Linked DNA regions of Homo sapiens. The protein of the gene in region 3 interacts with the protein of the main gene of each other region in a biochemical or structural test. Each region holds a gene or a part of one and is shown on either strand. Other genes may lie near its edges.

Region 1 (4,229 bases), about 31 Mb from region 3:
GGAACAGTGGAATCAGGTTTGGAGGGAAATGCTTAACATGTTTGCATACTGTTCTCATCTTTACATACTTTTTCAACAACCCTGCAAAGTAGGAGGTATGATATATCTTCAGTTCATAAAGGAATTGATAGCACAGTTGGTAAGTAAATGGAAGATTAGGGTTTGAGTCTAAGCCTATCTGCCTCCCAAGTTAATAATCTTTCTGCTGCACAGTTTCAGTATCCCCAGTCTGTGAAATTGGGATAATAACAGAACCAGAGGCCAGGCGAGGTGGCTCACATCTATAATCCCAGCATTTTGGGAGACCAAAGTTCAAGGATCACTTGGGCCCAGAAGTTCAAGACCAGCCTGGGCAACATAGGGAAACCTCATCTCTAGTAAAAAATTTAAAAATTTGCCGGGCGTGGTAGCGCAGACCAGTGGTCCCAGCTATTTGGAAGGCTGAGGCAGGAGGATCACTTGAGCCCAGGAGGTTGAGGCTGCAATGAGCTGTGTTCACACCACTGCACACCAGCCTGGGGAACAGAGTGACACCCTGTCTCAAAAAACAAACAAAACAACAACAACAACAAAACAAGCGTTTAAGGATTTAGGAAGGTAATGCTTCCACCACAGGGCTTGAATGAATGAATGTTAACTTCCTCTTACCTATTCTTGTTTTTTTTTTTTTGAGATGGAGTCTCGCTCTGTCACCCAGGCTGGAGTGCAATGGCGCGATCTCGGCTCACTGCAAGCTCCACCTCCTGGGTTCACGCCGTTGTCCTGCCTCAGCCTCCCGAGTAGCTGGGACTACAGGCGCCTGCCACCACGCCTGGCTAATTTTTTGTATTTTTAGTAGAGATGGGGTTTCACTGTGTTAGCCAGGATGGTCTCAATCTCCTGACCTCATGATCCGCCCGCCTCAGCCTCCCAAAGTGCTGGGATTACAGGTGTGAGCCACCGCACCCAGCCCCTCTTACCTATTCTTTTGGAGGAGAAAAAATCAAGAAGCCTTCCCAGGTTGTAATTTCCCAAGCTGTTTTTTTTGTCCAGCTCCTCTGCATATCTGACAAAATTTCCCATAGCATCTTTCAGTAACACTTTTATCTTGCTCATACTTCCCCCATCATCACAATTACACTTATGTTCACAGGGTCTCTGGGGCTTGCTGTCATTCCTTCATCTGGCCAAAAAATGCTTCTTCCTGAAAGCCCCGAGTGAAGCATTCTCCTGGTTCTAAGTACAGTTCATTAGCTCCCCGGTTTCCCTTTTCTCCTCCTTCAAGTACACAGATAACTAATCTAAAATAGGGCCTTCCCAGTCCGAACCGTTGGTATCAAGTACACAGGAGTGCCATAGCCTTGAATCTAATTACCTAGTACTTTGAATAAATCTGGAAAGACTAGTATGCTTGCAAGATGATACAAATGTATAAAATAAACATTTAAATTATACAGAATTTTTTTTTTTTTTTTTGCTTTGCTTGTCTCTACACAGCCAATAATTTCTGAAGATCAGACAGCAGCCCTGATGGCCCATCTCTTTGAAATGGGATTCTGTGACAGGCAGCTGAACCTACGGCTGCTGAAGAAACACAATTACAATATCCTGCAGGTTGTGACAGAACTTCTTCAGTTAAACAACAACGACTGGTACAGCCAACGCTATTGAGGAGTGACCTTGTATTAAATAACTGCCTGCTGCTCAGAGATGATCTTTATTCTGTCATTGGGGTATGGGATAGAAGCCCTTGCTTATTTTTAATCTGATGAATCTGTATAGAGCCCATCGTTGAGTTACCAAGACAATACCTGCTACAGTATTTTGGGGAGCAAACTAAAGACCAGAACTTAAATTTTCACTTTAGACATTGGATGAATAGTATGAAGACAGTTTTTCAGTTGATTTGGATAAAACTATTTTAGTGCATTGACAAGTGTAACTTCAACTTCATATAGAACCATTTTTCTTTCTGCTTTTATTGAAACTGAGTATTTTTCTTTGGCTAATGTGGATTTTTTATGGGGATATCTGTTAATTTTCAGGTTTTGAAAGACATTAACCTCGGAAGTTGTTTTTAAGAATTATTCTCATAATTCTTATTCTCATAATTTCTGTAATCCACCTCAAGCTTCATAGTTATTTGGCATTGAAATAACACCCAGAGCATGATAGAAATGTTGTTACTCTTCCTCTCTCAAGGAGAAAGTAATTTTCCTGCAATACTTAATAATTGGCACCGTTGCTTTCTAAAGACTCCATGGTGCATTCAAGAGTATCCAACTTCAAGGGAATCTCCGCATTTCAATGAAAGGAGGAAGAGTGTGCTGATAAACCTACCAGCACCTATTGAGCAATGTCTATTATAGTAATTTTGCATACATTTTTATTTAAGGGAAAAAATATAGGTATTGTGAAATATTTTGCTAATCTTATAGAAAAGGAAAAAATCCCGTTATTTAAAGGGAAAAGTAAATTTAACAGTTGCCTTTTTTCTTAATGTCAGGGCAGATCTTATTTTACAGTACAGTGGGGGAAATAGAAACATGTGAAAGGCAAAAGGCAGGCTCCTAAATTAATGTCAGTGAAGTTCAGGGTGGGCAAATGAGTGTGTGTGAGGTATAGGAAATGCTGATGACTTCTTTAATGCTTGAAGTCCGTTCACAGGTATCTAGCCCTAGAATGCCTAGAACAGGAAGAGGCAGCTGGTGTTCTGCAAAACTTGGACAGGGGCAAAGTTGCTGAAAAAGTTTTGGTTTAACCCGAAGATAAGTGGAAAAGAGCTTGTCCATGAACCCAGGTTCTCACTCTGTTTACAGAAGTGTGTTGAGTACAGTTGGTGAAGGAAGAGGTAACAAAAAATGCTAAATATTTTATCCATGAAAATGACTTCCAGAAAAGGAAGAATATGAACCCCAGACCGAAGGGGAAAAGATAGTTAATAGTATTATCTAACCTGGTTGGTATTTGTAATGAATGGTGATTTTAATTAGTCATTAGCCATAATGATGTTTATTTACAGTATAACTCCTGAATGCTACTTAAATAAACCAGGATTCAAACTGCAAGCCAGCCAGGCCGTTCATTATTTAAAACGTTTTAATCGGGGCTTCCGGGTAGAAGGTGGAGCGGCAGGGTGTAATTGGGTTGATGGGTGGGACCTGTCTTGACCATCGGAGTTTTATAATCGAGGGCCAGGAGGGCCCGGGTTGCTCTCCTGGTTATGTATGTACTTGTACATAACCACCTAAAGAATGGTGAAATAAATGTTCTTGGAAATTCCTACCCGGACTGGCTAGTCCTTGCGGAAGCAGCGTCCGGGCCCTCGGGTAACGTTTGAAGAGCTGGCAGCGTCTCAGGCTGCTGCGTGGCGAAGGGGCGGACCGGGGGACGGGGGGGTGGGCCCTTAGGGGCTGGGGCGGGACTTCCCTGGGCACTGAGTCAAAGCTTGAGGGGAGTGTTCGCTCCCGCATTTTCGATTCCACTCTCTTCCGTTTCTGTCGCTGCAGTCGTCCGCGGGTAAGGCCCTCCCTAGACCCTTTATACCTACTTTACCTTTCGGAGGTCAAGACACCTCCTGTTGCCGCCTCCTCGCCCAACACACAGGCGCCCCCCGCACGGGTACCAAGCTTGACTAACGGCCTCTAGGGGTGTGTGGTGGGACTTGAAATCCTCCCTTAATGAAGTCACACCTTCTCCGTCCGCTTCCACCCGGTCGGCCCATGGCAGAGCCCCCATGTAGCCCAGGAATCGGCTTGGCCCTTCGGGGAGGTCAGCGTCCTTACTATCCCCACTCTCCAGTGCGGCACATTCGTTCCCCTAGGACTCCGGCCGGTTGCCGGCCCCAGGCGGTGCTTCTCCCCACCACCGCCCAGCTCAGCTCAGCCCAGCCCAGCCCACTCTGCCCTTAGAGGCCCTTCTCCCCAAAGACGCACTCCAGAAGTCTCGCCCTCGTGCGGCTGAGGAGCCTGGGATCCCAGACCTGAACAAGGTGAGCATCCCTATATTTTAGCCCAGAAAGATCTGTGTGGCTCACTTGCCGGCCTCGTTCTGTCACACAGAGTCCAGATTTAGCCTTGAGTTTTCCTAGTGAAAGACAGACCCTGGTATCACTATGACCCTCCTCAGGCTTTCTTACCCCGCCTCAGAAAGCAGTGAGGTGTCTGCTTTCTCCCAGGGCTTCTTTAGATAGGGGTCTTAACCACACCTGTGACCAGTCTGGCCTCCTCTCTCCTTGATTCAAAGAATCT
Region 2 (8,412 bases), on a different chromosome or scaffold from region 3:
AACCTCCACCTTCCAGGCTCAAGCCATCCTCCCACCTCAGTTTCCAGAGTAGCTGGGACTACAGGTGCTCACCACCGCGCACAGCTAATTTTTGTATTTTTTGCAGAAATGGGGTTTTGCCATGTTGCCCAGGCTGCTCCAAACTCCTGAGCTCAAGTGAATCGCCCGCCTCGGCCTCCCAAAGTGCTGGGATTACAGGTGTGAGCCACTGCACCCGGCCCTCCGTTCATTTTAGAATCCCATTCTCTTCATTTGGTTTGGACTGTCTCCTTGTCTTAATGATACACTGTTACCCAGGCGTATTAAAGAGGAATCTTTTTTTTTTTAAGAGGAATCTTTTTTGTTGAATGTGAAACATTCACTTGAGCTAGCTTAAAAAAAAGGCAGTAGGATATTCTCATTTATAAGTGGAGTTAAAGCCGGGCGCAGTGGTTCACGCCTGTAATCCCAGCACTTTGAGAGGCCAAGGTGGGTGGATCACAAGGTCAGGAGTTCAAGACAAGCCTGGTCAACATGAGGAAACCCCGTCTCTACTAAAAATACAAAAATTAGCTGGGCGTGGTGGCAGGTGCCTGTAATCCTAGCTACTCGGGAGGCTGAGGCAGGAGAATCGCTTGAACCTAGGAGGTGGAGGTTGCAGTGAGCCAAGATTGTGCCACTGCACTCCAGCCTGGGTGACAGAGCAAGACTCCGTCTTTAAAAAAAAAATGTGGAGTTAAAGAATGTGTATAATGTGCACACAGGGACATAGAATGTGAACTGATGGACATTGGAGACTTTGGAGCGGCGAGGGGTAGGGGGGCGGTCGGGGCATGGGGCGAGGGGAGGGATGAGAAATTACTTAATGGGTACAATGTACATTATTTGGGTGATGTTACACTAGAAGCCCAGACTTCACACTAAGCAATATATCCATGTATCAAAACTGCACTTGCACCCTCTAAATTTATACCAAAAAAAAAAAAGACAGGAGGGATTGATCTTAAGTCTGGAGGGGTATGCCTTGGAAGCCACAGGCAGGCGTGCACTTGGGCCTAGGTGTGCTAGAACCAGGGACTCAAAGCACCTTCAGGAGCCTCCATCTCTCCCCGCTGCTGCCCTCTGCATAACTGCCTCCTTTCTGTGAGCTCCCTGCAGCCTAGCCCTGTCTGGTTTCCCTTCCCAGGCCAAGAGGTAGAGCAGCCACCCGCTGCCACTCCTGTCAAGGACCAGCTGCTTTTGGGGCAGGGTGGGTGGTTCTAAAGATGACAGGTACTGCCGGTTCTGATTGTGGCAGAGGGAATGTTGGGTTGCAGGGAAGGGGAGAGGGGAACAGCCTGGAGATCCAGGCAGTGGTCCCCACGGAGGTGTGGACACAGAGCTGCAGGGGAAGGCCTCTCTCACCAGAACCCCTTAGTCTCCAAGATAATCAGAGGAAGCAAACTAATTGTTTTGGATCACCTATTAGATGCCAGGCACCATGCTAATCATCTTTCTTGTGATTTCCTTCCATTTTCACACATTAAAAAAAAAAAAAGACGAGAAAACAGGCCCAAAAGAGCTACATTACTTGCCCAAGGTTGCAGAGCTAGAAGTAGAGAGGCTGGAATTCAGCCCATGGATCATTCCACTCTACCACACTGTCCCTGGAACCTGGGTCAGAGCCACAGTCAGTATCAGTATCACTGAAAGTGCCTGTTATGACCTGGCCAGCCCAGTATCATCACAGGTGACTGTGGAAATGTCCCTGGTTCCAGAAAAACAGGATTTTCAAACATGGCTCATTGTATCCGCTCACTTGGATTCAGCTCAGCCCAAGATAAATATGGCCAGTATTGGTGGCTGATGAGCAGAGCCCCTTGACGGCAGAGGCAGGACCAGGTGAAGAGCCAGGCAACCTGGTCTCCTGAGATAGGTCAGCAGGTGGTGAGTCAGGGGGCTATAAACAGCCTGTGGCCCCAGCCAGCACTGCCCAGATACTCAGCTGATGAAACCCCTTGTAACCCCCTGTGTGCCCCTGCCTGGCTTGGGGAGGAGCATGTCAGCGCTCCTCGGGGAGGGGGCCCTACTTGGCAGGCCGGGCCCAGCATTGTGCACGGTCTGTTCCAGCCTGGCTGGCCAGGCCCAGGGCCTGGGCTCATGGGCTATATTGAGGGCTGAGTCACCAGCCCGCGCCTGGGTCAGGCTGAGTGTCACTGGCTGCTGGGGCCTGAGTCAGGCCCCGATTTATCCTGGAGAGCAACAGGCTCAGGTTTCTGAGGACGGTTGCGGGGGGTGACGGGAATCATCCTTTGGCACTCTGTACCCTCCTCTCCTCTGCCAACCATTCACTTGATCCCCTGGGACCCGCACACTGACCTCCCCTGGAGCGAGCTCTTGAGTCAGAGGGAAAGCAAGGGAAGCTACGCTGGGAGTTCCTTCTCCCCTCCCTGGCTTCCTCCGGCCTCTCCACCTGAACAGAGGCGCTCAGCTGGCTGGGGGACCTCAGATAATGCCTGCAAAACAGGACTGTGGACCATTAGGGTCTGTAAAGGGGCTGTCAGCTCCGAGCTACCTCACCTTAACCCTTTCTCCTCCCCAGCAGCTCAAAGAGGAATGCATCCTTTCTCAGATCTGTGTCTCAGTTTACTCACCAGGGATTCAGAGGCAGCACTGCTGAACCCTGAGCCCTTGGCACATCAGGTTGGCTGTCAGAAGTCGGCCTTTGTACATACACAGTTCCCTTGTGAGGCCCAGCTGCGTGTCCTAGGAGCGGGGCCTCTCTCCACAGCAGAGCTCAGCCTCTCAAGTGTATGGACAGCACGGGTGCCTGATGGGTGGATTTAGCCATGAGTTGAAGGTGGCTTGGGGAGAATGAGAGTTCTAGAGATAGGGAGAAGGGGTTGCCAATAGGAGAGTGGAATTCCTGAGCACCTCGTCACAGGCAGCCGACAGAACATGAGCCGCAGGGCCCAGGCTATTTATACCTCGCCTGTCACTATCAGGGTCCCCACAGCTCCCCCCACCTCCAGCCACACACAGCAGGTCCTTTTGCTCTTTCTGGTCCCTTCTCTACTCCTCCCCCTCCCTACCTAAGGACCAGGCAATTTCATTCATAGACCCCTGTCATCATAAGCATTGCCCCCACAGAACCCTGACACTTTTTCCTCAGCTCCGTAACAGGGGGTGCCCTCATTGGCCCTTGGGGGAAAGAGCCCCCAAAGATGCTCACTATCCCTTCTTTTACACCAGGTCTAGGGGTAGAAGAGGAATTAGATATAATGATTCATCTAAAAGGGCCCAGAACCTTCCCTGGCTTAAAGAAACTTCTCAGGCTCAGATATGGCCTCCTAGCCAGCTCAGCTAGACTTACTAGGTCTAGAAGGATGGGAAAGCTGAAGACACATGGCTTGAAAAAGGGGGAACTGGGAGATATGGCTGCACGTATGTTACAAAGTTGCAGAATGGATCCTCTCCTTATAGAAATACATTCTCTAGGCCCAGCACGGTGGCTCACGCCTGTAATCCCAGCACTTTGGGAGGCTGAGGCGTGCAGATCACCTGAGGTCGGGAGTTCGAGACCAGCCTGACCAACATGGAGAAACCCCGTTTCTACTAAAAATACAAAATTAGCTGGGCGTGGTGGTGCATGCCTGTAATCCCAGCTATTTGGGAGGCTAAGGCAGGAGAATTGCTTGAACCTGGGAGACAGAGGTTGCGGTGAGCAGAGATCATGCCATTGCACTCCAGCCTGGGTAACAAGAGCAAAACTCCATCTCAAAAAAAAAAAAAAAAAAAAAAGAAAAAAGAAAAAGAAATACGTTCTCTAGCTCTTTCTCCTCACCCCAGGCCAGAGTCTGTTTGGGTGCCTCGGTTTCCCTGCTGTTCTATTCCCCAGGCCTGCAGCCTTTGGCTTGCCCTGAGTGCAGCTTTGCCTGGGCATCCCAGCTGGCTCCCTTAGGCTCTCCCTGACCACTCTGCCCCTGGTCCTGCCTACCCACCTGGTCACATTTCCCCCTGGCTGCTCTGGCTGGGGCTCTCCCTGTTTCTGCCTGGCTGACCCACCCTTTCCCTGGCAGGATCTGCCCTGTGGCCCAAATGGGCATGTTGCCCAGGGGGCTCCCTGGCACTATGGGGGAAGAGTCTCTCCTTCCCCTCTTATCATCTCAGTTGAGTCAGACTTGGGGGAGGGGGATACACAGTGTGAGTCACTGGGTACCCTTTTCCTGAGCTCAGCTTCATACCGAGGCGATGAGGCCAAACGGGCTGGTGACAGGGACACTGAGTCAGGGGCAGGGGCCCCGGTCTTACTCCTGGGCCTCTGGATTTGGGCCCTACATGAGGCTTTTCTATCTGTAAAGTCAAGCAATGGCTGGGAGGCACACACAACCCCCCGCCCCCCCGCAGGCTTCTCCTTCATTGGCCCGGGCAAGGTCCCTGCTTCCTCTCAGGCCGTCTCTGCACAAGCACACACACTTCCCTTCCCTGTCCACAGGTGGACAATGCCCTGGGCTAGGAGCCAGCCCTCGCAGGCCCTGTCAACAGCCTGCCACCAACTAGTCTAGAAAATTCTGTGAACACCAGATCAGTGGGTTTTGCCCTAATCACTGGCCTCAGTTTCCCCATTTACCTCTTCAGCCCGTGCGGGGTGTGGAGGGAGCATATTTCATTCCTGACAGTTTGGTGTGTTGGGTGTGGATGGAGAACTGTCGGCCCTCCCCGCCACCTTCCAGCGCGGCGGCACCGGGGGCCCAGGGGGTGGGCGCCCTCAACCCCGTCCCGCCGCCCGGGCGGCGCGGGGGAGGGGCGGCGGGGGCGGGGCGTCCTGTGCGGCGCGGCCCCCACCCGCGGGCCGGGCGGCATTCCTGGGAGGCCGGCGCTCTGACGTGGACCCGGGGGCCGCGGGCGCGGCGGGGGGGCGGCGGTCCGGGGGCTTCTTAAACCCCCCGCCCCGGCCCAGCCCGCCCTTCCCGAGCACCGCTCCGGCCCTGGAGGGAGAGAGAGCCAGAGAGCGGCCGAGCGCCTAGGAGGCCCGCCGAGCCTCGCCGAGCCCCGCCAGCCCCGGCGCGAGAGAAGTTGGAGAGGAGAGCAGCGCAGCGCAGCGAGTCCCGTGGTCGCGCCCCAACAGCGCCCGACAGCCCCCGATAGCCCAAACCGCGGCCCTAGCCCCGGCCGCACCCCCAGCCCGCGCCAGCATGATGAACAACAGCGGCTACTCAGACGCCGGCCTCGGCCTGGGCGATGAGACAGACGAGATGCCGTCCACGGAGAAGGACCTGGCGGAGGACGCGCCGTGGAAGAAGATCCAGCAGAACACATTCACGCGCTGGTGCAATGAGCACCTCAAGTGCGTGGGCAAGCGCCTGACCGACCTGCAGCGCGACCTCAGCGACGGGCTCCGGCTCATCGCGCTGCTCGAGGTGCTCAGCCAGAAGCGCATGTACCGCAAGTTCCATCCGCGCCCCAACTTCCGCCAAATGAAGCTGGAGAACGTGTCCGTGGCCCTCGAGTTCCTCGAGCGCGAGCACATCAAGCTCGTGTCCATAGGTCAGTGCCGGGGGCGAGGGCACGGGCGCTGCGGGGATAGGGTCGTCCCATGGGGCAGGGGCACAGGTGCGGGGTGGGCGCGCGGGGAGCTGAGAGACAGGGCGGAGGGCACCCCCCGGTATAGAGAGAAGACCCTGGCCCCGGCCCTCCCACCCATCGACAAGGGCCATGGGCACTGCCTGCACACCCCTCTGGGGACAGCGAGCACTCCCTGGGTGCCCCGGGGAGTCCAGGCCTTAGGGTTTGCGAGCCCTCCAGCTGCCGCCTCCCCATGCACATTCCCACCTCCCGCCTCGGCTCACCGTTCCCTTTCCTTCCATCGGGCAACCCTAGCCCACACTCGGGAGGACAGAACCAGTGCCTGTCACTGATTCCTGGGGGCATCTCCCCGCCCCCAACAAAACAAGTGGCTTCCCAGCTTCACAGCCCCTCCGCGGGCTGGGAGAGGGCTGAAGACAGGTCCCCAACCACTGCCCGCGTCTGCGGGCTCTGGGGCCGAGGGGAGCTGGCGCGGGAGGCCCTCTTCGTGCATGTGCTCAGCAGCTGGGTTCAGGCCCGGGGGCCAGGACAGGCAGGGCCCAGCCTCAGAAACCTAAAAAGGCACTGAGCGAGCGCGGGGAGACTTAACCCCTGTCTGTCCTCCTCCTGCTTCAGCCTGCGGTGGAGGGGGCTTCCGCAAGTCCAGGCCCTGCCCCAGCCCACCCCCTACCGCGGGATTGGCTGCAGCTAACGGTCTGGGCTGCGGGGAGGGAGGGAAAGGCCTGTGGAAGGGAGGAAGTCTTTGAGTGTAACCAGATTTGGAAGGTGTGTAGTGCAGGGTGGGGGCGGGGAGGCACTCTAGTCTTGGGAGCAGAGACGCCAAGGGTGGGCTTGGAGTGGCAGGAGGCTGTCCTGCCCTCAGAGTCCTGCAGTCATCCCTGAGGCTGGGGGCCTGGGGAAGATCCCCCCGCCCACCCCTGTGGAGAGCTCTTAAGAACCCTGCTGGGATTTGCAGGACGAGGTCCTTGGACGGTGCACCCCACGGCCCCAGGAGGGGAGTTTCATGTGGGGCCAGGTGGGCCCCACACAGGATGTTCCCTGAGATTTCTCCAGATGACTTGATGTCTGTCAGCCCCACTCTCCCTTGGGGCCATCTCTAGGCCTCCTGATATAGCAGCTGAGGTCAGCCCAGGGCCCTTTGCCCCGTCCAGTCCCCTCCCTAGCCCTTACCCCCTCCTGCCCCAATACTGCCCCCCCACCCCACCCGCCTGCCCTGTCCTGGAAATAGCCCTGCCTCCGTGACACAGCAGATGTCTCTGAGCTTTCCAGAAGGACAAGGCTGAGGGCAGGGGGTGGGGGAGGGAGCCTGGAGTGTGTAGTGAGACTGAGGGCTACGTGATGGAGGCTGAGGGGTCAGAGAGGAGTCAGTCCTGGGCCGGCATCCTCAGCAGGCTGGGTTTTGAAAGGCAGGACTGACTGTACCAGGTGGGGTCTGGGGGAAGAGCCGGAGGCTTCGGCAAGACATATAGGAAACCGCTCAGCCTTCCCCTCCCCTCCAGTCTGCGGGGGCTCTCGGCCCCTCTCCAGGCCTCGTCCTTCCTGAGCACACCTCTCCCCTCCCCCGTGGCGGTGCCTGGCTCCAGCCCCCTTGGCTCAGCAGAGGAGGGGCTGGCTCAGAGCAGAGGGGAAGAAGCAAAAGCTGGTTTGAGGGTGGGAGGGAAGCTCCCTGGTTCCCGCTGGGAGGAAGGGGAGGCAGTCCCCATTTGGGCCAAGTGGCTCACTGGCGCTGATGAGATAAGCTGTCAGCAATTCAGCTGCCGGCCCCAGGCTGAGGCTGGAGGGGAGGGGACACCGGCAGCGACCAGCTGGGGCGCCCCACCATGAGGAGGTTCAAAGGGGCTGCCCACGAGGCAGGGGCATCCTGCTTCTGCTAGCTCCCCTACTCCATTTAGTGGTGGAAAGGGGCTATCCATGGGGCCACCTTCTGAGTATTGTCTCAGCACCGAAATCGAGCATCTGGGCACCTCAGGGGGTGTCAGAAAGACTCCCCACTTCTCTTTCCAGGAGGGAAGTCAGGGTCTGGAGTAGCAGCTGGGATCCAAGCCCACCTGAAGAAGGGGCACTGAGCCCAGGTTAAAGGAGCTGTGCCCTTCATATCCTCACCACCTTGTCCTGGCCCCCCGTTGCCCCTCGTTCCCTCCGAACAAAGAGGCCTATGAGGCAGCTCTGTCTCGCAGCTGTTCCCCAGTTGCTATTCCTTCTCCTGGAGCCAACAACCAAGGGAGGGGCGGGAGGGGGCAGCAGCTGTCCCAGCACCTCCCTAGGCCCAGCCCTCTCCTCCCCCTCCATTTGAGGCCTGGGGTGGCCTCGGGAACTAGCTGTCTGGCTCCTCCCACTCCTTTGGGGGTATCCCTAGGCAGATGGAGAAGTGGCTTGGTGAGCCCTGGTGGCGCTGAGCTCCTCTCCTCTGCCTGGCCTCCGAGAGGGAGGAGGGAGAGGGAGGTCATTGCTTCCAGAGTGGGACTTGGGGCCCCACTGCCCTTCTCCTGCCCCAAGCCTGGACCACTTGCTGTCTGGCCCAGGGCCAGTTGCTGGGGAGAAACTTCCCTCTCCAGCAAATATGAATGACCACCCTCCCCATATACACACCGCCCCCCCCAACCCCTGCAGCCTCAAGGCTTCCTGCCCAGGGGTCTGGCTCCAGTTTGCAAGAAGTACTTCTGGGCGTGTGAGCTTTGGAGGCTGTCGGGGTTGTGAGAGGCTGGGGGCACTGGGGCATCCAGACTGTGTGAAAGTGTTGGAGCCTGTGTGTTTGAGAGAAAGCACCGGGAGGCAGGGAGTGAGTGTGTCATGGAATCTGAAAGCTGCCAAACCATTGTGCTGCAGTGGAGCCAGGGGAAGGGGGTGGGCTGGGGAGCTGCTGGGGAA
Region 3 (8,254 bases):
TCATCATCACATCCTAGATTTATTACAACTGACCTGCAGGCAAAAGGATAGAACTATTACATAAACACTTCGATTCCATGTATATATCTTAAATAGAGGAGGAATTCAAACAAGAATACAGGATAAAATATTCCAAAGCTCCAAGAAGCAGTTATGTTACTGAGCTCCATTTTTTACAGACAAATAAGGCAATATCCCTGCACATTAGCTTTTTGATAATTTTTATACATTTTTCTATGGTACAAGAGAAAAATAACCAGAGCTCACAATGTACAGTTCTTACACTATTTTCACAGTTTGTGAACACTATACACCCTTTTGTTTTAATAAAGATACATTGTAATAAACTCCTTGCCCTTAAGTTTATAGTTTATAATAATCTATGATTAATACACTAAAATTGCCTTCTTATGTGGTCATCCACACAATAGAACGGTCAGATTAGCTCCTGGACAGTCAGAATTGCTTTTATCTCCATTTGCATAATGGCAAAGTGACCCTATGCTGAGCCAGATGGGAAGTTGACAGCAGAGAAACAGATTCCTCTTGAGTCCCCGGGAGCAATGGAGGATGATGGCTTGCTGTGGTCGAAGGCAGACATAGAGCAATGTCTCCTTTCAGAACAGTGGGAAGTCTAAAGTTTAGGATACCGTGGGGGAGAAGATAGGGAAATGAGGCAAGTAGATCAAAGAGATAATCACTTTTGAATTCTGCAATTTACAGGGATGTGACTTTAAACAGCACCATTCTCCCTTTATTGTTTGACAGTATTTATGACTGTCACTCTGAGAGGAGACACAGCAATACGTGCCACGATTTGGTTCTGTAATGGCATCACCTGCATCTCAGGCCATGACTGTTTTATATTCCAGTGTGCTTGAACCACTCACAGTGCTGCTTCACTGTCATACAAAGCCTAAGGTTCAGTGCCAGGGAGGCCCAAGCAAAACCTAATGAGAACCTGGCTAATGGGTAAGTGAAGAAGCACAAGATACTTAAATGGCCTCTTGTAACAGTGCTGAGGGTTTTGTTTTGCTTTTTGTATTTTTTTCCAGTAGAATTCCAATGCCAAGAAATGGTGATGGACTACGAGAGGTTCTAGCAGGTGATGAACGTAAAGGCTGCCGTTTCGGATCCTCATCTGGTCCAATGTGTCTCTAGAAAAGATGCCTCTTTATCACCTACCACATCGGCTGGGCCCCACTATTCTTAGCCTTTTAAACACTAGCGAATATGAGAGATTTGGGGCTAAAAATCCTTGGTAAGGAACATCCCTGCTAACTGTAAAGGTTTTTTGATATAGAAAAAAGGCAAAATATTGGATTAAGCGCAAGTCACATAGCGACAATAGACCACAGGGGAAGGGAAAGAGATTCGGAAACTGAAGACCTGGACCAGTGATGGCAAGAAGCAAACAACTGAGATTTGGTCTTTTGCTGCCTACTAGAAATCTTTATCTAATCAATCAAGGCACATTGCTACTAGCTACTTCTCCCTGTTAGTGAGTTATGATGGCTAAAGTATCAGGCTTGGGACCAAGGGGAAATATATAGCTGCTACAAGTTGTTCCAGATAAAATACTAGAATTAAAAACATCTGTAAACTTTGCCTTCTGTACTGTTTTCTTCTTTCAGTCCTGGTGGTTTGTGGCAGGTGGAACATCAAGTTGGCAGCACACCGAATTCTGAGAATGAAAAATTCTTAGGATCAGCACCTTCTTTGACAAGTGGCAGACTCCTGAGTCTTCCCATTGAAAAATAGGACTGGTAAAGGAGAAAAGAACACATTCTGTCCTGTCTCTATATTTTAATGTTCACCTCTTTGAACGCAACATGGTTTTTGGTAAAGATAAATTCATTCTAATTTAACATGATATTTCAAACAGGAAATTTGGCTGAGCACATCGATCCCCAAACATCAACTGTAACTGTAAAGCAACAGAATATCACATCAGTAATCTATTGCACTTGGTGAAGAAAGTAAATTCCTCCTTTGTCTCCCAGCTCCAGAAGGCAATGTGTCTCGTTGGCTGTGCAAGCTCTTCTCACTCAAGCCCGAGTTTCTATGTTCAGACATAGTACATTCATCACTGTGTCCTTCCAGGATTTGGAAGTCTGACAAAACACCATTCCAGTAGCTGCATCTCCAGGTTTTGAGTCTAGAAATGAATTTAAGATGTGATCTAATCACAGTCAACAACTTGATCGTACTGACTTCCACATTTCATGAATATGTTCATCACAAAAGAGCAGGATGAGGTCTCTCTGACCAGCACTAACACTGTGTGATCAATCAGGTATTACAAGGATGCACGTTCTAGGTGACAGGAGTATACAGACATGATGGAAACGAACACCAATCTTATTGCACATGGTGTCTGGGCGAGCAATAAAAACACTGTGATACGGGATGAAAATTCTTTACGTCTTGCTTCCTCTCAGCCCTTTTTTCTAGAGTCTGATGTAGCAGCGATATCAATCGACATACATGGGAGAGCTGGGAGTAGCTGGCATTTGATCCAGGATTTTACAAACATAGCATGCGACCTCAACGGCACGTTCTTCATACATCAAAATAAAGGGATGTTTCTGCAAGAAAATTGAAAACAAAAAAGTCAAAAGTTTGTATGACAGCCCAAACTGAACATTTTCCAATTTCTATAGAACATAGAACTCCAGGCTCCCAACCACACATAGCTATGAAATACCGCAACACTACAAGTTCAGAGAGGCGAGTACAGCCTTTATTCCATGCAGATATGCTAATGGGCATGGGCATGCCTAGAGAGAGGATACGTGGTAATGATCTGAAGGTGCCACCTTGGCAGTGAGGTCTGGAAACTCATCTGTATACCAGGGAGTGTTTGTTGAGGAAGACAGCCAAGTTGTCACTCAGCACAAAACATAGCTGGAGCCTCCACCACACCATCTAAGAGCTAAGAAGAATGACGCAAATGCCAGTCACTATTCCTCTTGGGACACCAATATAAATCTCAACCTCCATTTCTCCTATATACAACAGGAGGACCTTTTTACAAAAAGGTCGCAATCCTTTTGACCTCTTCTTTTGACCTTTTAACAAAAAGGCTGTAATTCTTTTGACCAAAAGAGGCCCAAGAGAAATTTGCCCCAGGAGCTTCTTCCCTGTACTCTCCAGAGCCAGGGTCCCAGTATCTGCTTCACTAACCCACCTTTTAAAACTCCATCTCTAGCAACAGTTTTCTTTTACAGACTAAGTATGTTGACTAGATATTTTTACAGTCATTGGTGGACTGTGATATAAGTTTGTCACAACATCCTTGAAGAGCTAGTAGTTAAATGTGACAAACAAATGGATCTTTTCTTAAAATATTCCCACATTATTAGATCACAACACTTTCTCCCTGCCCCACCAATGCCATACCCAGTAGACTGCTTAAAACACCCAAGTTCCATGGGATGAATGAGAACTTTCAAAGAAATGGGAATAGGCTATATGACGTAAATTTGCATGAATTTTATAAAGGCAGAATAAACACAAATTTTCACTAATTTTTTTCTTATGGCTGCATCCCATATAAATAGACTATGCAGTGGAAAATGGCTTCTTAAAGTCAGAATTCTTTGGGGGTAATTTTTATAACATGTTAAGACCAAAATTTTCCATGAGAATTTAGCTAGTATTAGTAGAAAAATTATAACTGCAAATTTTCTCTTTCCAAATCTTTGTGTAAAAACATTAACAAAAAACACTCAATAAATTTGAGATGTTTGTTTATGACAGAGAGGCCCACTGCTTGCTTAGTGAACCAGCATGTTAAGAGAGTTCCGGGGTTAGGATGTACCTACAATCCCCACAGTCCCACACTCACCAGAAGCTCTTTATACTTTGGCCTTTTGGATTCATCCTTCGTAAGGCTAAAATAACATAAAAATAACATTATTAAAATGTAGATTCATTTGCCTAAGTATTTTTCTTTTCACAGATGAAATATTACAAATAATGAAATAGTTCTTTCCTTCAGATCCAAAGTAACAACGCAGACAGCCTGCTAAACACAGTAAAAGCACATACAAAAAATTGTGAGTCTATAATCTGAAGATTTATCTCTAGGATAGTCAGTGTAGGATGATTAGTTAAAAATTAGAAAAAATATTAATTCTTGAAAATTGACTAAATTATGGCATAGCTACACAGAATACTACAGTTAAATATATAAATGTTTTATAAGTATAAAATTATTTGTGTACATATATGCTTTTCTAAATGTAAATAAATAAGTAGACAGATATTTATGCAGATACTACCCAAGAGAAACCAGCAATCAAGTAATTCTGGGAGATAAATTACATATACATTTTTATCAATTTATCCTTAAGTTTTAAAAAAGTTTATACTCTGTATCTCAATATGTTCTTTGGTCCAAAAGTTTAAAACAATATAACTTCACTGAAGACTACATCAGTATATAAAAATGTCTGCTCTGTTGACATTTTCTCCTTGAATTCTACCTTGCCTAATTAAAGCTGCCAAAAGTATTTTCATTTTGTTTATATTTACCTCATCTATCTTGGCCCATATCTTAATCACCATTCCCTTCCAACCTCAATTAATATTTTACTATCAAACATGAATTAATATGGGTAACATAGTTCACCTCTTTCTAAACTCATTGCTGTTTTCCATATCCCACACCTTCTGTAACAGATACTGCAATGTGCTATGTAGATTCCCTCTTTAAGAAGGAAGGACTTATTCTTCCACTGTGGGGCAAGCCGCCAGCAGACAACCCTTTACTATCGGCCTCTTCAGGATTACCACAGCTAAAGACAGCCACCTTAGCCCTCCTGGGACAGTCCATCTCTAATGACTGATCCACAAAAGTGAATAAAAATCCAAGACCCTCATTCCAAGGCAGGTCAACACAGAGTTGGCTGAGGCCTTCAATGACATGGCACTGCAACTGAACTTCTTCTGCCCAATCTCGTTTCCTTCTCATTGGTAGTGTTGATCCCAAGATCACTACCTAGTCAACTTCCTACACTCTTATCTCTGTCTCAAAAGCCTGCTTTCCAGGCATCCAACCTGTGACATCCTTCTTCTGGGTTAACTTCTCTTCTTGGTCAAGTACAGATGGCCCTTGAGCAACACAGATTTCAACTGTACAAATCCACTTATACATGGATTTTTCTTCTGCCTCTGCCACCCGAGATAGCAAGACCAACTCCTCCTCTTCCTCAGTCTATTCAATGTGAAGACAAGGATGAAGATCTTTATGATGATCCACTTCCACTTCATAAATAATATATTTTCTCTTCCTTATGATTTTCTTAATAACATTTTCTTTTCTCTAGCTTACTTCATTGTAATAATACAGTATATAATACATATACAAAATATATGTTAACTATGTTATCAGTAAGGCTTCTGGTTGACAGTAGGCTATTTGTTAGTAGTCAAGTTTTGGGGTAATCAAAAGTTATATGCGGATTTTTGACTGTACAGGGGGTCAGCATCCCTAACCTCCACACCATTCAAGGATCAAAGCAGTCTATAAATTGTAAGTGCTCAGTCTTCCCATTCCTAAAACTGTATTTCTTCCTTACTGTGAATATTTGAGTGTCTGAGTCTAAAACTTTAGGACCAGGCTGACAATTATTTTCCCTCAGCACTCTGGTGCTGTGACTCCACTTTTTCCTGCAACTATTGTGGCTGGGAACAAATCTGCTGTTAGTCTTATTATCAATCCTTAACAGATAATCTGTTTTCTCTTCCTGATATTGCTCGGTAATTTTGCTTCAATACATAAATGATGATAAACAAAGGTATAAATTTAAAGGTAAATTTAAATATAAATTTAAAAGGTAAATTTATACCTTTGTTTATCATTTATGCACTGAAGCAAAACTACAGAATATCAATTAAAATTTACTTTTAAATTTATATTTAAATTTACCTTTAAGCTTATACCTTTGTTTATCCTACATGATAAAGAGACTTCACTTTCAATCTGAAAACCTATACTAAATCAGTTCTCAAATGTTTTCTTTCCCCTATGATCTCTGTAAACATTGCTTCTCCACTTTCAGAGTTGCCTTCTTTATTTCCATTACATGCATCTTAGAACCTCTAACTCTGCAATCTGTTCTGATTCTTCACTGCTTTTCATATAATCTGTGCCATGCTGGGGGAACGTCTCAGCTCCTATTTCCCTAATTTTGTCTTCAATTATTTCCAGTCTAGAGAACATCAAGTCTGTTGTGTCTTTTATATCAACAGCTATGATTTTTCCATTTCCAAGACTTCTATTTCCAACCACTTTATTTCTTCCTCAGTTTTAATTGAATTTATACCTTTATTTCCTTGAGCATCCTAAATATACTGATTTTCTTTTACAGCATATTTCAGACAATTTCATAAATCTATTTCAACTTAAAGTAAGTTTCTGTTCCATTTTGTTAAATGCTTTCTTAGCATTACACTTCAGTATTCAAGAATTATGATTTGCAGACTCATTTTGAAATAACATGTTTACCCTCCATGCATATCCATTCATTTGTTCAACATATGTCTGAGTGCCCCACTAATCACTATGAACTGAACTGGGAGCCAGGGATACACACATAGAGCAGTTTTACAGTTGCCTCTATTTCACAGGGCCACCAGTATCAAACAGGGTCCTGTAATGGACCTTTCAAGTTCCACTCCTATGTTGGTATTAGGACAATTACAGTTCCAGTCCTCTGGTTGCAAAACCAGTATCTAAAGCCTTGTCATTGTGTAGTACCATAGCTTGCTTAAAGCTGTGGCCCAGGAAGTAACTGATATCATTTTTTTCATTCTCCAGAATGAAAAATGACCTGGAATACAGCAAGTCCATGGCATCAGATCTACACAGCATTCTGTCAGTATTTTTGTTGCATTTTTTCACCCACACAGAGGTTTGCTTTCTTTGTAAAGCTGCCATACCTTTCTGGTTTTGTGTTTTTCTATTTCATCTACTGGAGCAGAAAATTATGTCAGTGTATAAACTTATGATGCTATTTGGGTTGAAATCTTAAACTATTAACATTGACTGTCTTCTTTTTCTGAATTACAGCTGACACTAATAATGTTATCAATAATTATATTAGCTCCCCTTAGACTATCTAATAAGGTAGCCGTTAGCAAACTTAATTCCAATAAAAAATGCATTTCCTTAGTTACATTAGCCACATTTCAAATGCCAGCAGCTACCACACTAGACAGAGCAGATTATAGGACATTTCCAGCATCTCAAAAAGTTTTATTGGGAGAGCTTCAGCTCTGTCTTCTAGTTCATTAATCTCTCTTCAATGATATCTAATCTGTTGAATGCAGCTATTGTTTTAATTTATGCTTTTTATTTCTAGAAGTTCTATTTGGTTCTTTATAAATGTGTTCCCTGCTTATATTTCTAAGCTGCCTCTTTTTCTTTAAACTTATTTTTTGTTTCCTTTCATTCCAATATTTGAAGCCTTTGCAGATCTATTCCTACTATCCATTGTTTCTGATTCTCATTTCTTTTGTGAGTGTTGAGATTTTTTTGTGGACTACATATTCCACTTGACTTTATTTTTTGGAATCATTTAGTCCTAGGCTGAATGATTTGCTTTTGCTTCTGCCCATCAACTGGGGGCAAGAGGAGCATATCTTTCCAACCAGGGACTCTGAAAAGTAATTTTTCTTAAAATTAAATTCTCTAAGTATTTTTACCATATTCAATATGAATTTAGATGGCAAATCTACATTTGCTTGGGTTATCCTTTAATTTACTTTGACTCTTCCTTCTCTCCCATAATCTCCCTCCCTGAATTTCAGTCAACTTCAGAGCTCCATGGATTCCTCAGTTTTGCACCAACTCTTTTACATTTTAAGAGGGACTTTAGGTGGGGCACGATGGTTCACCCCTGTAATGCCAGAACTTTGGGAGGCTGAGGCAGGCGGATCACCTGAGGTCAGGAGTTCGAGACTAGCCTGGCCAACGTGGCAAAACCCTGTCTGTACTAAAAATACAAAAATTAGCTGGGAGTGGTGGTGCGTGCCTGTAGTCCCAGCTACTCAGGAGGCTGAGACAGGAGAATCACTTGAACCTGGGAGGTGGAGGCTGCAGTGAGCCAAGATCATGCCACTGCACTCCAGCCTGTGCGACAGAGCCAGACTCTGTCCTAAATAAATAAATGGCACTTTAAAATGCTTATCCAGGCCAGGTACAGTGGCTCACGCCACTGTAATCCCAATACTCCGGGAAGCCGAG
Region 4 (8,254 bases), on a different chromosome or scaffold from region 3:
TCCCATCATTTGTTTCTGTTCTCTTAGGGCTGACCATCCTATGCTGCCTGTTACCTGGTATCTAAAAACAGTTGTTTCAGCCATTTTGTCCAGTTTTTTAGTTTTATGGCAGAAAGGTAAGTCTGGTCCCAGTTACTCCATCATGGCTGGAAGTAGAAGTCCCAAAATACTTTCAAAATATTGCTCTCTCTAGATCACTTTAATCTAATAAAACACTTTTTTCCCAGCTACAACTTTATGTTGGCTACAACTCAGCAGTTGTATGTCATTTGAAAAATATTTGTTTACTGAGTTGTTCAGATCTTCCAAATGTTAACATATCTTATTATAAAATACCCAAAAATACCACATTCCTTACTATCACCATCAGTCTCATCAGAAAATTCTAACTTATGGGAAACTCAGGCACACAAGTGGTAGGTACAAGTTTTCTAAAATTCTAATTTTTGCTAGAAAACTCGCATTTTATCATTAGTAACAAATACTGTTGGTTGTTTTTAATGAAGTGATAGGCCTACTTTGTTCATTTTTGAGAAAAACATCTGCCAAATACCCAACACTGAATAACTGTTATTTATGTTAGTCATTTTTTTTTTTTTTAGAAGAAAGAAGGTTCTATGAAAAAGCAGCCAGTTTAGCTTGTAATTTGTTCATACAGGTGTTACCTAGAGACAACCATTCTACTTTGGAATGCAGCAGAGAACACAAAATGTTCTTCCCATTTGTCACACAGAATATTAAAGTGTTTTGGACTTGACGGATTTAGTAAAATTTGTAATTTTTACTGCTTCATTAAGGGCATTCTTCCTTTTTTTCCACTGTAAGAGCCACCGCCTTCCTTCTTAGATGCCAGGTTTCCCAATCACTGCTTTGGCACAATCAGTGCAAATGTCAACACATTTTTTTTTTTTTAATAAAAAAGCACATAACTGACTCTTAGCATTGTTACGAAAATAGTTTTAACCTCATGAACCCTCTGAAAGGTTCTTGAGGACCCCCTAGGAATCCACAGACCACAATTTAAGAACTGCTGATCTAAGTGAAGAAACGAATGCAGCATATGTTTCTAATTTGTCTATATAATGCAAGTGCAGTTTTTAAAGGAAGTTGGAACAATAAGACAACACAAAAGGGACAGTTTGTCCTGTCTTACAGCCCCTCCTAGGACCATACACAGAGGAGCCTTTTCAGATTGGCTAAAGGGTCTGTTCTTGCCTTTAGGGAAGCTATTGCGATTGCCAAGGCCCGGCTGCGCCCGGAGGACCCAGTCCTGAAGGACTTGTACCTCAGCTGGGGAACCGTCCTAGAAAGAGATGGCCACTATGCTGTAGCTGCCAAATGGTAAGCCTGAGGAGTGGAGGGATGCTTCCAACATAGGAGAGCTTCTGCCAGGAAGGGGAGGACAAGAATACAAGTAATAAGTTTAGAGGTGGAGGTAAAGCAGCAAGGAATTATTTAAAAGATATGTATATTCAACTTAGTTTCATAAGACTCATCAGGAACTACTTCCTGATTTATTTATATAAATCACTATAACTATTCAAGAAAAACCTCAGCAGCAGATTAAGAAATTATGCATTTTTCTAATGGTCTCTTATAACATCAAATAAAGGAACCTCAACCCATGCTGGATTGAACCCAACAGAGGAGTCATTCCCTCTCATTTTCCTTATGTCCTTAACCTATATGATATTGTTTCTCATACACTCTGCTGAGTTGTGTTGGCCTCAGCCTTCACAGGAACAACCGGGGCAGTGACATACCTGGGACCACAGGAAGGCACATGCAGCAAAGTAGATAGAAAGAAATGATTCCATCCTCTAGGAATGGGAATAAAAATCTGTTTGTGACATTTTCTTCACATTTTTATTCATATTATAGCTATTTAGGGGCCACTTGTGCTTATGATGCAGCCAAAGTTTTGGCCAAAAAGGGGGATGCGGCATCACTTAGAACGGCTGCAGAGTTGGCTGCCATCGTAGGAGAGGATGAGTTGTCTGCTTCCCTGGCTCTCAGATGTGCCCAAGAGCTGCTTCTGGCCAACAACTGGGTGGGAGCCCAGGAAGCCCTGCAGCTGCATGAAAGTCTACAGGTCAGTCTGTTATTTCATCTCCTAGTATACAAGAGGGAAGTGTCCCAAATCCTTTTCTAGTCAAATCCAAGTTAATAACCCAGTTGCACAAGCTGTGCCAATTTGGCAGGCCCAGCAAGCCCTGGCCATGCTATCCCACTGAAGTACTATGACTTGTTAGTTGCCGTATTCAGAGTAAGAGATAATATGGTCATTCACAGTAATTCCCATTGCTTATCTGTTTGTACAAAACACCTGTGAGCCGGGCACAGTGGCTCATGCCTGTAATCCCAGCACTTTGGGAGGCCGAGGCAGGCAGATCACTTGAGGTCAGGAGTTTGAGACAAGCCTGGACAACATGGTGAAACCCCGTTTCAACTAAAAATACAAAAATTAGCCGAGCGTGGTGGCACGCTTCTGTAATCCTAGCTTACTTGGGAGGCTGAGGCAGGAGAATCACTTGAACCCGGAAGGCGGAGGTTGCAGCGAGCCAAGATCCAGCCTGGGCAACATAGTGGGACTCTGTCTCAAAAAAAAAAAAAAAAACACAAAAAAAAACACCTTAGTCAGCCCAGGCCTTGGGTTGGCAGTCTAGGGTTTCTTCATTGATGTTATCAGCACTGTCTTCCTTGAAGAGAGAATGGTTGGCCTCTAACAGAAATCATGGAACTCTACCTGTAAATGCCCCTCTTAACTGTAAGCTATGGAAAAAAAACTGGGCCAGATGCAGCAGATCGCTTGAGATTAGGAGTTCAAGACCAGCCTGGCCAACATGGCGAAATCTTGTCTCTACTAAAAATAAAAAAATTAGCCAGGCATGGTGGCACACATCTGTAATTTGGCTACTTGAGAGGCTAAGGCAGGAGAATTGCTTGAACCCAGGAGGCAGAGGTTGCAATGAACCAAGATTGTGTCACTGCACTGCAGCCTACGTGACAGAGTGAGACTCTTCAGAAAAAAAAGAGAAAAGTGTGGGAAAATGGAAATCTCTTTATTTCTTAAATTTTTTTGTTCCCATCTGATTAAAAATCAGTAACATACCACTGCCTTTTTGACACATCAAAACAGATTAAAGCATTGGCACACTTACCTAGTTTCTGAAACATGTAAACATTTGATTCACTTTAGATAACTTTGTGAGATACTAACAAGAGGTTTTTTAAGTTCTTCATTCTCTAACAGAGTACAGGGCCTACAGATGGTTTTTAGCTGAATATTTAGAGCCCAAGGAACGTGGTACATGGGGAGGTAGCTTTCTAGGAACAGCAGAATAAAAATGGAGGTGAAAATAGGACACCCTAAAAGATAATGCCACTGGGCATTATTTATAAAATGACCAAGTCTAGAAAGATTTTAATTTATCCACCATCAAAAAAAGTTTCCAGAATGACTGTTTAGCATTTTATTTTTCTCTTAAACAGCATCCTTAACAAAGCAAAAAAACCTAATAAGCATATGCTAAATATTCTGATAAGGGCTATTTTGGTTTTGTGCAACAGAGACTCTTGCAAGCTTAACTGAGAAGATATTGTTATAGGAGTACACAAGGAATCTCATGGCAACTAAAAATCTAGTGAAAGTAGATTTTCTAGGCCTTCTCTGTGCTTCTGTTTTCTTCTCTCCCAGCCAGCTTCCTCTATTAAACCTATTTGGACATGGCTCCTAATGCCTGTCCCAGCTCTTGGATCTGCAAAGCTTGTCTATTCCAGCACCTTTGGCCCATTATGCTTTTATTCCTGAGTCCAAAGTTTGGTCAGGGAGAAAGAACCTGATGAGCCCAGCCCTTCTTTTCCTCAAACTAGGCTACAAGGCTTAAGTGGCTGGTCTGTGTGTGGCTTAAATCATTGTGGGTAGTGCTACAGTTGGGATTCTGTGTTATAAAAATGGTTTCTTGAGCTCTAAGGATAGATTTCCCCCAAAAGGGACCTGGGAAGTGTCTGTCAGATCGCCCCTTTTGTCTCTTTTCATGCATGACTCATATGGGGCAGGTAGCTCACTAATGTGCTTTGGTTGCTGCAGATACAAAGGGAAATACTTTGAAGGACACGGGAGAGCTCTCGAGATCATCCAGTGCTTTCCCTGTATAACAGTTCCTCTTCCTTGTTGTCGTGTTCCAGGGTCAGAGATTGGTGTTTTGCCTTCTGGAGCTACTGTCCAGGCATCTGGAGGAAAAGCAGCTTTCAGAGGGCAAAAGCTCCTCCTCTTACCACACTTGGAACACGGGCACCGAAGGGCCTTTCGTGGAGAGGGTGACTGCAGTGTGGAAGAGCATCTTCAGCCTTGACACCCCTGAGCAGTATCAGGAAGCCTTTCAGAAGCTGCAGAACATCAAGTACCCATCTGCTACAAATAACACACCTGCCAAACAGGTAAGCCATCTGTACCAGCATTTGACATTAATCACTCAGTGGTAAGACTTCCTTAATCCATGTCTATTGTAACGGGGAAACAAGCAGAATACTGGACTGTGTTTCAGAAAAGGCTAAGGCATGGCCACGCCACCTGGAAAGATCCCTTTAGACTAATCAAAGCCCTTTAACTTTAAAGTTAGTATTAGATCAGTATTCCCTTTTTTGTTTTGTTTTTTTTAGTTGTTTGAAGCTGGAGTGCAGTGGCATGATCTTGGCTCACTGCAGCCGCCACCTCCCAGATTCAAGTGATTCTCCCGCCTCAGACTCCTAAGAGCTGTGATTACAGGCGTGCGCCACCACGCCCAGCCACTATTTCCTTTTCTAAAAAAGTAAAATAAAAAGTCTAGAAAATATAGAAAAGCAGAATAATGTAATAACCCATCAACCAGAATTAACAGATGTTCACATTTTGTCATTTTTACTTTGTAGGGTTTTCTGGTTTCATTTTGTATTTTGATTTGAGGACTTTATAAAATAAAAACAGTAGGGCAAAGTTGAAGTCCTTCTTGTTCCTTTCCTCAGCCCTTCACTCCTTCCCTAGCTCGCCACAGGCACCTCCTGTGTCAGTGCCACATGTATTGTTTTGCTGTTTGCTTATTTCAGAGGCCATTGTTTGTAAAATCTATCCATGTTGATAAAAAGAGATCAGTTGATTTATTTTAACTGCTATGTCTGCCTTGTGAATATACCTACTTCTTTTTTTTTTTTTTTTTCCTTTCTGGAGACTGGGTCTCACTGTTACCCAGGCTGGTCTCGAATTCCTCAAGTGATCCTCCCGCCTCAGCCTCCCAAAGTACTGGGATTACAGGCATGAGCCACTGTGCCTGGCGTAGTTCTTTCCCTCATTTCAAAATGAGGGAACATTATGATATTTATGAGGAACAAGGCTTCTCAAATGGTATATACTTTGAAAAACAATTGGACAGTTTCTTTTTTTCTTTTCTTTTTTCCTTTTCTTTTCTTTCTTTTTGAGGCGGAATTTCACTCTTGTTGCTCAGGCTGGAGTACAGTGGCATGATATCTGCTCACTGCAACCTCCGCCTCCCAGGTTCAAGCAATTCTCCTGCCTCAGCCTTCCAAGTAGCTGGGATTACAGGCATGTGCCACCACGCCCAGCTAATATTTTTACTTTTTTTTTTTTTTTAGATGGAGTCTCACTCTGTCACCCGGGCTGGAGTACAGTGGCATGATCTTGGCTCACTGCAATCTCCGCCTCCCAGGTTCAAGCAATTCTCTTGCCTCAGCCTCCCGGGTAGCTGGGATTACAGGCACCTGCCACCATGCCCGGCTAATTTTTTGTATTTTTAGTAGAGACAGGGGTTTCACCATGTTGGCCAGGCTGGTCTCGAACTCCTGACCTCGTGATTTGCCCACTTCGGCCTCCCAAAGTGCTGGGATTATAGGCATGAGCCACTGCAGCCAGCCTATTTTTCAGATTTTTAGTAGAGACAGGGTTTCACCATGTTGGCCAGGCTGGTCTTGAACTTCTGACCTCATGTGATCCACCTGCCTCGGCCTCCCAAAGTGCTGTGATTACAAGTGTGAGCCATCACGCCTGGCCAGGCAGTTTCTTATAAAGTTAAACATGCACATGCCCCATGTCTCAGCAGTTCTGCTACCTAGATATTCCACTAAAACAATGAAATCAGATGGCCACACAAAGACTTGTACACAAATGTTTACAGCAGCTTAGTGCACAGTAGCCAAAAACTAGAAACAACCCAAATGTCCATCAACTGATGAATGGATATGCAAACTGTGTTGTGTCTATGCAGTGAAATACTATACTGTTTAACAATAAAAAGGGCCAGTCTTGGTGGCTCACACCTGTAATCCCAGCACTTTGGGAGGCCAACGCGGGTGGATCGCTTGAGCTCAGGAGTTTGAGACCAGCCTGGGCAACATGGCAAAAACCTGTCTCTAGTAAAAATACAAAAATTAGCCGGGTGTGGTAGCACAAGCCTGTAATCCCAGGTACTAGGGTGGCTAAGGCAGGAGAATCATTCAAATCTGGGAGACGGAGGCTGCAGTGAGCCAAGATGGAACCACTGCACTACAGCCTGGGTAAGAGAATGAGACCCTGTCTCAAAAAAAGAAAGTAAAAAGGAACAAATTACTGCCACACAAATAATATCGGTGTTAGCCGCGCGTGGTGGCGGGCTCCTGTAGTCCCAGCCACTCTGGAGGCTGAGGCAAGAGAATGGTGTGAACCCAGGAGGCCAAGCTTACAGTGAGCCGAGATCGTGCCACTGCACTCCAGCCTGGGCGACAGAGCAAGACTCCATCTCAAAAAAACAAAGAAGAAGAAGAAGAATATCGGTGAATCTCAAAAGCTTTAAAGACACAAAAGACTATATACTCTGTGGTTCCATTTATATGAATTCTAGAAAAGAAAAAATTAAAGTGACAACCAGTTCAGTGGTTGCCAGTGGGGTGGGGCCAGGAGATCGCCTGCAGAGGAGCCGGAGGGCATATCTTCAGTTGATGAAAATGTTCTGTCTTGATTTTGCTGGTAGTGTTGTAACTATATATGTTTCTCAAACTACATACTTAAAATTGAGCACATTTTTCTTAGTTGTACTCCAAGCTTTGTTTTGTTTTGTTTTTGGTGGGTTTTGATTTTTTTTTTTTGAGACAGCGTCTCACTCTGTCACCCAGGCTCGGGTGTAGTGGCTTACTGCAACCTCCGCCTCTCGGGTTCAAGCAATTCTTCCGCCTCAGCCTCCCAAGTAGCTGGGATTACAGGCGTGCACCACCAAGCCCGGCTAATTTTTTTTTTTTTTTTTTTTTTTTTAGAGACGGGCTTTCACCTCGGGTGATCCGCCCGCCTCAGCCTCCCAAAGTGATGGGGTTATAGGTGTGAGCAACTGCACCCAGCCTTTATTTTGTTTTTAATTACAGCTTTTAGTTCCAGAAACTCACTTTTTGTTTTTGTTGTTTGTTTGTTTGTTTTGAGAGGGAGTCTCACTCTCATGCTCAGACTGGAGTGCAGTGGCGCAATCTCAGCTCACCACAACCTCCACCTTCCGGGTTCAAGCAATTCTTCTGTCTCAGCCTCCCGAGTAGCTGGGACTACAGGCACGCGCCATCATGCCTGGCTAATTTTTGTGTTTTTAGTAGAGGCGGGGTTTCACCATGTTGGCCAGGCTGGTCTTGAACTCCTGACCTTGTGATCTGCCCACCTTGGCCTCCCAAAGTGCTGGGATTACAGGCATGAGCCACCGCGCCTGGCCCACTTTTTGTTTTAATTAAATGCAAATGTAAAGGTGTTTTCTCAGTGTGAACAGACTTTAACACCGGGACGTGTGTGTGCTGCTGTGCAACTAGACATGAGAGTTTCCGATGTGGGAAGCAAAAATGGGTGGCGGAGACAAGAGGAACTTTCAAAGTGTGAATTGTGTGTACTTGTTTCCAAATGCGGTTCACAGGAACAGTTTGGTGGCATCCTCTGCGCCTACCGTGGGAGGATGTTTAACTCAGACTCTGGCTTCTCTCTCCAGCTCCTGCTTCACATTTGCCATGACTTGACCCTGGCAGTGCTGAGCCAACAGATGGCCTCCTGGGACGAGGCTGTGCAGGCGCTCCTTCGGGCGGTGGTCCGGAGCTATGACTCAGGGAGCTTCACCATCATGCAGGAAGTGTACTCAGCCTTTCTCCCTGACGGTAAGTGACTTCCTGCTGCCTGAGGCACACCCTTTAATGGACAACATCACCACCATTAGTGGTGTGGCACTGGGAGTACCTAGATTCTTAAAAGATGGAGATTGGCCAG

What was found.
Region 1: the proteins of MAP2K4 (region 3) and NBR1 form a complex in vitro, tested with the Homo sapiens proteins (one study listed by BioGRID).
Region 2: the proteins of MAP2K4 (region 3) and FLNC form a complex in vitro, tested with the Homo sapiens proteins (one study listed by BioGRID).
Region 4: the proteins of MAP2K4 (region 3) and GEMIN5 form a complex in vitro, tested with the Homo sapiens proteins (one study listed by BioGRID).

Annotation. Positions count from the first base shown.
Region 1 is NC_000017.11:43,208,425-43,212,653, forward strand, and holds the end of NBR1 (next to BRCA1 gene 1 protein), read left to right. Parts: intron 1-1,132; coding exon of another isoform or gene 1,133-1,219; exon of another isoform or gene 1,220-1,438; intron 1,439-1,476; coding exon 1,477-1,650; 3' UTR 1,651-3,264; downstream 3,265-4,229. UniProt on the Homo sapiens protein: Ubiquitin-binding autophagy adapter that participates in different processes including host defense or intracellular homeostasis.
Region 2 is NC_000007.14:128,825,485-128,833,896, forward strand, and holds the start of FLNC (filamin-C), read left to right. Parts: upstream 1-4,921; 5' UTR 4,922-5,153; coding exon 5,154-5,505; intron 5,506-8,412.
Region 3 is NC_000017.11:12,135,481-12,143,734, reverse strand, and holds part of MAP2K4 (dual specificity mitogen-activated protein kinase kinase 4), read right to left. Parts: intron 3,897-8,254; coding exon 3,851-3,896; intron 2,589-3,850; coding exon 2,475-2,588; 3' UTR 1-2,474. UniProt on the Homo sapiens protein: Dual specificity protein kinase which acts as an essential component of the MAP kinase signal transduction pathway. Essential component of the stress-activated protein kinase/c-Jun N-terminal kinase (SAP/JNK) signaling pathway.
Region 4 is NC_000005.10:154,892,278-154,900,531, reverse strand, and holds part of GEMIN5 (gem-associated protein 5), read left to right. Parts: intron 1-1,221; coding exon 1,222-1,341; intron 1,342-1,881; coding exon 1,882-2,092; intron 2,093-4,188; coding exon 4,189-4,440; intron 4,441-7,982; coding exon 7,983-8,145; intron 8,146-8,254. UniProt on the Homo sapiens protein: The SMN complex catalyzes the assembly of small nuclear ribonucleoproteins (snRNPs), the building blocks of the spliceosome, and thereby plays an important role in the splicing of cellular pre-mRNAs.